Linked DNA regions of Homo sapiens. The protein of the gene in region 1 interacts with the protein of each later gene in a biochemical or structural test. Each region holds a gene or a part of one and is shown in the gene's direction. Other genes may lie near its edges. The genes, in order: LILRB2 and CD1D.

Region 1 (2,706 bases):
GCTCAAAGGCTCAGCTCAGGCCCTGCCCCCCAGGAGAGCTCTGGGCTGGGATGGAGTGAGCGGGGGTCTGAGCGGGGCTCAGCCAGTGGGAGACTCACCCTCAGAGGGAAGGAGGACAACAGGCCCTCCCAGGCCTGCGCACACTCAGCGGCATCGCCAGCATCATGGACAGGAGAGGCGGGTGGAGGGAGGGGCCTGGGGAGGCCACAGGGCCCATGTAGAGAAATTTGGTTTGAGGTGGAGACTTCAGGAAAGCCCCAGCTCCTCACCCTCCTCTCATTCTTTCACCCAGGACCCTCCATGGGTTCCAGCCCCCCACCCACCGGTCCCATCTCCACACCTGGTGAGTCCCTGAGGCCTCTGGCTCGAAGGGAGCGCAGCGACCCCCAGGGCAGCTTTGAGTGTCCAGGAGGATCCCATTCCCTTCAGGGACTCAATCAAGGGCTTCTGTCCAGGGAGCTGGGCAGAGCCAGAGGAGGGGCCACAGGGTCCCCAGGGCTCTGAGGCTGGGCTGGTGAGGGGTGGGGGGTCAAGGCAGAGAGAAATGTTGGGGCCCAGCCTGGGGGAGGAGCAGCCGGGCTGATGTGGGGAGCAGGGCAGCCCCAGCCCTCACCTCCCCGTCCTGACCCAGCAGGCCCTGAGGACCAGCCCCTCACCCCCACTGGGTCGGATCCCCAAAGTGGTGAGTGAGGGGCTCTGAGTGGGAGGTGGGCGGGGTCCCGGGGAGGCAGGGGTGGGTTCTGTCCTAGGTTCAGGCTCCTCTGGAGGTGGTGATGTAGACAGGCTCCTCCCCTGCCTGGGCCTCAGTTTCTCCAAGTGTAAAGGAGAGAGGCCTGCAGGTGGGAAAGTTCCTTTCAGCTCTCACTCCCAGCTGTGACCTCCTGGGAGAGGAGGCCCCTCAGGGAAGACTCCAAGACTCGATTCCGCGGGGGCCTGTCCCGTCCCACCTGCAGCAGAGACGGTGACCTGGGGCAGGGGAGGGGAGCAGAGTCGTGGTTCAGGACGGTAAGGCTCTTTCCCTGCAGCTCCGGGGCTCGGCTCTGGTGCAGGAACAAGGGCTGCAGGTCAGACTCCCAGGCTCCCTTCCCAGCTCTGCCGCTTCCTGGCTGGGGGCCCGGGGCAGGCGATTCCCCTCTCTGAGCGTCAGTTTTTCATCTGTAGAGTGGGTGGGGTGGATGTTTGTGTGCTGCACGACTGTTGTGGGGGTTGGAGGTGGTGAACAGAAGGTCCAGCAGTCACCTGCACACAGTAGGCGCTCATTTCAATGACATCACCCCCATCCCTGACATCATCGTGCTCAAGGTCTGGGAAGGCACCTGGGGGTTGTGATCGGCATCTTGGTGGCCGTCGTCCTACTGCTCCTCCTCCTCCTCCTCCTCTTCCTCATCCTCCGACATCGACGTCAGGGCAAACACTGGACATCGAGTGAGTAGGGAAGGGGAAACCCTGTGGGCCGACCGAGGGTGGGCTCAGGGCACAGCCAAAGAGAATCCAAACCACTGGGCAAATGCAGCTTTGAGAAACTGTTCCAGCATTTCTCACCAGGTGAATGGAGAAAGCACTTAACGTCAGTCCCATCTACAAATATAAAGTGTCCTCCGGGCTCAGTCCCATCTACAAATGTAAAGTGTCCTTCGGACTCTGTCCATCTCATGAGGCATTTGGAACATGGAGGCAGGAGTGTTTTTAGGTTTCCTTCCTTACCTTCGAGCTGTGTGTGCAGGGCAGGGGGCTCCAATGTTCCCAGGGCTGAGGCTCTGTCCTTCTTCCCCCAGCCCAGAGAAAGGCTGATTTCCAACATCCTGCAGGGGCTGTGGGGCCAGAGCCCACAGACAGAGGCCTGCAGTGGAGGTAATTCTGCCCGAAGACCCCAGACTCCCACCTGCTCGTGGCCCATACACTGCCCCTAAAGCTCCCATTCCTCCCCCAGGTCCAGCCCAGCTGCCGACGCCCAGGAAGAAAACCTCTGTGAGTGAGAGGAAGAGGTGACCAGCCAGGAGGGAGATAGGGGCCCCGAAGTTTCCGTAGCAATGGGGAAAGGGGCACCGGCTGGAAAGGGTCTGGGGCTCAGGGTGAGATCATCTCACCCCACACTGTGGGACCTCAGGGACATTGCAGCCCCTCCCTGCATCTCAGTAGCCCCATCTGGGAGCAGGGCAGGGGCTGGCAGGACTCAGAGGTCCCAGGGAACCTTCCCAAGAGACGAACCCCTTGCTCTGCCCCAGCAGATGCTGCCGTGAAGGACACACAGCCTGAAGATGGGGTGGAGATGGACACTCGGGTGAGACCCCGCCCCTGTCCCAGGCACCAAAGGCCTCCTGGTGCCAGATCTAATCCAGCAGGACTTCTCTGTCCTCCTTCCCCCGGCTCTCAGCATCGTCACGGTGGACCCCTCCTTGTCCAGCACGCTGCCTCCCGCCTGCTGTGACCTCACTCTCTCCTGCTGTCCTGGGACCTCGTGGGCCTCCTCCCGGGTCCCCTTCCTGCTCCTCATCCTCTGTTTGGCCGTCTGGTTGTTAGAGCGCTCCCCAGGCCTCTGGAGGATGAGGAATAAATGAACCACCCCGGTCCCCTGGGCTCCCCTTCATTCATTCAACCAGTGAGTGTTCCCAGGGAGCTCACTGTGGATCAGGCTCCCCATGGGAGCTGCAGACACAGCAGGGAGCAAAGCCGCCCCCGCCTCCTGAGCTCACCTCATGGTGGGAG
Region 2 (4,505 bases), on another chromosome or scaffold:
TTTTTATTTCTCATAGCTTCCCTCCTATCCATTATTTAGGCAATTTTGTATCCAAATTTAATAATTTAACACCTTATTTGTTACAAGAACACGTTACTATGTTATTTTAAGCTTTTTTGGGCAAATTACACATAATTAGATAGGCTGGGTTAGGGCTGTCTACAAGATCCCAGCCTAGAGTGTGGTGCAGTAGCCTATTTTCTCTAGGACTCTTGCTGCAACAGGATATGGGAGAAGGGAAACATTAACGTTAGCAGAATGGGAGGAATCAGATTATGGAGACATGATCCTTGCCTTCTGGCACCTCTCCAGCTGATTTAGAAGAGGACACAGAGGGAGACAGACATATGGCCATTTCTATAATTATAAACTCTGCTACATGCTGAGAGGATGGCTTCTCAAAGCCAGTTAGTGTACAAGCAGTGGAGGTTGGGACTGCCCTACTTCTCCTGCCTAGGGTCACACAGTCTGGCAGATCTGGAAAGACTTCCCTGAGAAAGTGACCTTGGAACTGATACCTTAGTGGAAATAACTAGGCATTGGGAGGGGGTGAGGTGAGGAGAAGGTCAAGAGCTTTCATGTAGAGGGAACTTTGTGCAGAGACCTTAGTCAGGAAGAGGTTTTGCATAGTGGAGGAACTGAAAGCTAACAGCCAGGCTACAGTACAGAGCAAATGATGCTGGGGTGTGAGGTGATGTCAAAAGGTAGACACCAGGGCTAGAGGGCGCATAATCTTGCAGGCCGTGCTAATGATTTTGTTTTCTACCCAAGAATGCTACTTCAGGAGATCAGTCAAAAGGTTAGGGTGATGGTGACGGTGGAAATATAGAAAAAGGAATTTATTCAAGAGGTATTCAAAAAGAAGTGAAATAGAGATGAGTTGGAGATAGATTGGATAAAAAGAGTGAGGGAGAGGGAGGTGTCAGGCTGCAGCCCAGGTTCTGAGTTGCCAAAGAGGAGTCTTTTCCTCCAGGTGAGCTAAGGCTTAGAACCACGATTTTTGGTCACTTTTTCTTATTTTCAGTGTGAGAAGTGGCGAGTTGGCTGTCCAGGTACACACTGTCATCTTACACTTACTGTTTAAGACAGAGGCGCATATTTGGAAAGTGAATGAGTCAGGAGCCAGAGGAGAAGGTATGCCGGCAGAGCCTAGGGCGGAGAGGAGGAAGAGAGTCTGGGGGCGCGTCCCCAAAAAGGAGACAGGGAAGACAGAGCAGAGGCCGGGGAGGGGAGAGCAAGGACCATGACAGGAGGAAAGAGAGGCTAGGGAACACTGAGGTGGAGGAATCCTGGGATATGACAGTTGTAAAGAATTGTAGCCAACCTAATCCAGTTCTCTCAATGTGCAACTGAGGAAATTAATTTTCATGCGTTTACTTTATTGTAAATGTGGTACTTGCACTTGAGAAATTTTGGAAAACATAAAGATGTAAAGCAAATTAAGATCACTCATAGTCTTTCCACCTAGAGACATGTACTGCTAAAGCAAGGACTTTGATCCTTTTTTCCCTTTGCATTTTTACCATGGTTGGAATTGTAACACAGACACAACCTTATGTCCTGCTTCCAAAACATAAATAATGGTTGTAAAGCGTCCCACACGTTGACCCAAAGTCTCCTTTGAAACAGGAAATTGAGACACGCCGGTTGTGAAACCTACTGAAGTGAGCGGCGGCGCCAGGATTCCTGGGACCCCGACCTCTTTGCAGCTCGCACAGCTAAGGGCGAGGGCGCCCTTCGGCAGAAGCAGCAAACCGCCGGCAAGCCCAGCGAGGAGGGCTGCCGGGGTCTGGGCTTGGGAATTGGCTGGCACCCAGCGGAAAGGGACGTGAGCTGAGCGGCGGGGGAGAAGAGTGCGCAGGTCAGAGGGCGGCGCGCAGCGGCGCTCCGCGAGGTCCCCACGCCGGGCGATATGGGGTGCCTGCTGTTTCTGCTGCTCTGGGCGCTCCTCCAGGCTTGGGGAAGCGCTGAAGGTGGGTGGAACGAGGGCGCTTGAGTGCACTCGCGGGAGGGCGGAGAGAGGGAGCTGGGTAGGGACGGGGAGGGCAACGCCTGATGGGGACTGGTGAGACCCGGGACGCACTGGCGCGATCTAGGTAGAAAACTCGCTGCTCCCTGGCTCCGGGGAGAGGCAGCGCGGCACAGAGTTCGCTGGCATCAGCCGCCTCCTGAAGCTCATCTCCTCTTGTTTCTTTCTTCCTTCTCTTTATGCTGGCTGCTCTCCCGGCCACTTGCTACACGCCTCCAATCTTCATTCTCTCCCAGTCCCGCAAAGGCTTTTCCCCCTCCGCTGCCTCCAGATCTCGTCCTTCGCCAATAGCAGCTGGACGCGCACCGACGGCTTGGCGTGGCTGGGGGAGCTGCAGACGCACAGCTGGAGCAACGACTCGGACACCGTCCGCTCTCTGAAGCCTTGGTCCCAGGGCACGTTCAGCGACCAGCAGTGGGAGACGCTGCAGCATATATTTCGGGTTTATCGAAGCAGCTTCACCAGGGACGTGAAGGAATTCGCCAAAATGCTACGCTTATCCTGTGAGCTGAGGGATAGGATCCTGGGCCGGTACCCAAGGGGAGAGAATGGCCACAGAAACTCAACTGGGAGACTGTGGCACCACCTGATGAGATTCTCTGCTCTGTCCACCCTCTTCTGATTTCCCTTCTACCTGGAGATGTCCCAGGCTTTGACTCCTCAAAGTGTCCCTCGTTCCTGCCTACTCCAGGTCACTTACTTTCCTTTCCCTGAAGTCTGGGTCCCCATTATAACCTGCACATCAATTTCTTCTCTTTCATCTCTCCCAGTCTTTTAAACCCTTCTTTGATCTTTCTCCATTCCTCTCCACAGATCCCTTGGAGCTCCAGGTGTCCGCTGGCTGTGAGGTGCACCCTGGGAACGCCTCAAATAACTTCTTCCATGTAGCATTTCAAGGAAAAGATATCCTGAGTTTCCAAGGAACTTCTTGGGAGCCAACCCAAGAGGCCCCACTTTGGGTAAACTTGGCCATTCAAGTGCTCAACCAGGACAAGTGGACGAGGGAAACAGTGCAGTGGCTCCTTAATGGCACCTGCCCCCAATTTGTCAGTGGCCTCCTTGAGTCAGGGAAGTCGGAACTGAAGAAGCAAGGTCAGCCTGCCTTCCTTACTCCCTGCATTCCACTTCAGGGCTCCAAACGGGCTTTTCCATTCCAGGGTTCTCATCCCTTTGAGCATTCAAAGAAGAGGAAGGCCCAGGAGGGGCTGGATAAGGGGTGAGGGTATTTATTCATTTCACAGACATCAACTGAGCACCTCTTGGGTTCTATGAATTCAATTAATGAACAACTGGGGGTGAAAGGTGTCAGGCAGTTAGTTAGGATCCCTGCTTGGTAGGGGGATGTTAATTAATGCAATGCTTGAAATAGGCTACATATGTTACTTCAAAACAAAGGGTGTTATAGGGGAACAGACAAGGGGCATTCATAGGAGGCTGGGACCAGAGAAGAAGAAGGAGTATCAGGGCAGGCTCCCTGAAGAAGGTGGGACAAATGGATTGAAAGTTGTGGGAGACTTCATTTCCAGAAGTGAACATGTCAGGGGCATACAGGAAGGAGGGAAATAAAGACCTGAAAGTCAAAAAGGATGATATGAGGCCTGGAGCCTCTAATGCAGAGTTTTCACTTTAAGATCCCCCCCATTCCCTTGTTGGATACAGTGAAGCCCAAGGCCTGGCTGTCCCGTGGCCCCAGTCCTGGCCCTGGCCGTCTGCTGCTGGTGTGCCATGTCTCAGGATTCTACCCAAAGCCTGTATGGGTGAAGTGGATGCGGGGTGAGCAGGAGCAGCAGGGCACTCAGCCAGGGGACATCCTGCCCAATGCTGACGAGACATGGTATCTCCGAGCAACCCTGGATGTGGTGGCTGGGGAGGCAGCTGGCCTGTCCTGTCGGGTGAAGCACAGCAGTCTAGAGGGCCAGGACATCGTCCTCTACTGGGGTGAGAAAAAGCTGGGCCCAAGCTGGAAATGGCAGGAGGTGGTCCTCAGGCATAGAGGGAGGCACTGGGGTGGGATGTGGCTTGATATACCCAGGTTAGAGGAGTTTCAGAGATGAGGCCCCCAGTAAAAGGATAGAGAGAGGGGTTCCAGACACAGGAAGGAGGGAAATAAAGACCTGAAAGTCTAAAAGGATTGAAATAGTGCTCTCTATATACAAGAAGAAACAAGACTACAAAACTCAGGGATCCAGAAGTAGGCAGCGAATAAACAATCCCAGGACGATTCATTCCTTGGCTTAAAGGGAGCCAGGCCTTTGGGAAGGCAGGTTAGCAAAGATAGCTTGGTTGGTTGAGTGCTCCCTGTGTAGGGGCCAATGAATCTGCATATAATATCTCATCTCATCATTCACAGTTTTCTTTGAAGCAAGTACTGCTCTTTTCGTTATATAGATGAGGAAATGAAGGCGGAGATAGGTTAACTGCCCGGAGCCACATAGAAAGTGGACGGGCTGGATTTAGATTCAGGTCTGCCTTGCTA

What was found.
Region 2: the proteins of LILRB2 (region 1) and CD1D form a complex in vitro, tested with the Homo sapiens proteins (one large-scale study listed by IntAct).

The regions. Positions count from the first base shown.
Region 1 is NC_000019.10:54,275,526-54,278,231, reverse strand, and holds part of LILRB2 (leukocyte immunoglobulin-like receptor subfamily B member 2 isoform 2 precursor), read left to right. Parts: intron 1-292; coding exon 293-343; intron 344-631; coding exon of another isoform or gene 632-634; coding exon 635-682; coding exon of another isoform or gene 683-690; exon of another isoform or gene 691-696; intron 697-1,252; exon of another isoform or gene 1,253-1,302; coding exon 1,303-1,425; intron 1,426-1,775; coding exon 1,776-1,851; intron 1,852-1,930; coding exon 1,931-1,968; intron 1,969-2,228; coding exon 2,229-2,281; intron 2,282-2,706. UniProt on the Homo sapiens protein: Receptor for class I MHC antigens. Recognizes a broad spectrum of HLA-A, HLA-B, HLA-C, HLA-G and HLA-F alleles. Involved in the down-regulation of the immune response and the development of tolerance.
Region 2 is NC_000001.11:158,179,190-158,183,694, forward strand, and holds the start of CD1D (antigen-presenting glycoprotein CD1d isoform 1 precursor), read left to right. Parts: upstream 1-1,705; 5' UTR 1,706-1,912; coding exon 1,913-1,973; intron 1,974-2,265; coding exon 2,266-2,532; intron 2,533-2,842; coding exon 2,843-3,121; coding exon of another isoform or gene 3,122-3,245; intron 3,246-3,688; coding exon 3,689-3,967; intron 3,968-4,505. UniProt on the Homo sapiens protein: Antigen-presenting protein that binds self and non-self glycolipids and presents them to T-cell receptors on natural killer T-cells.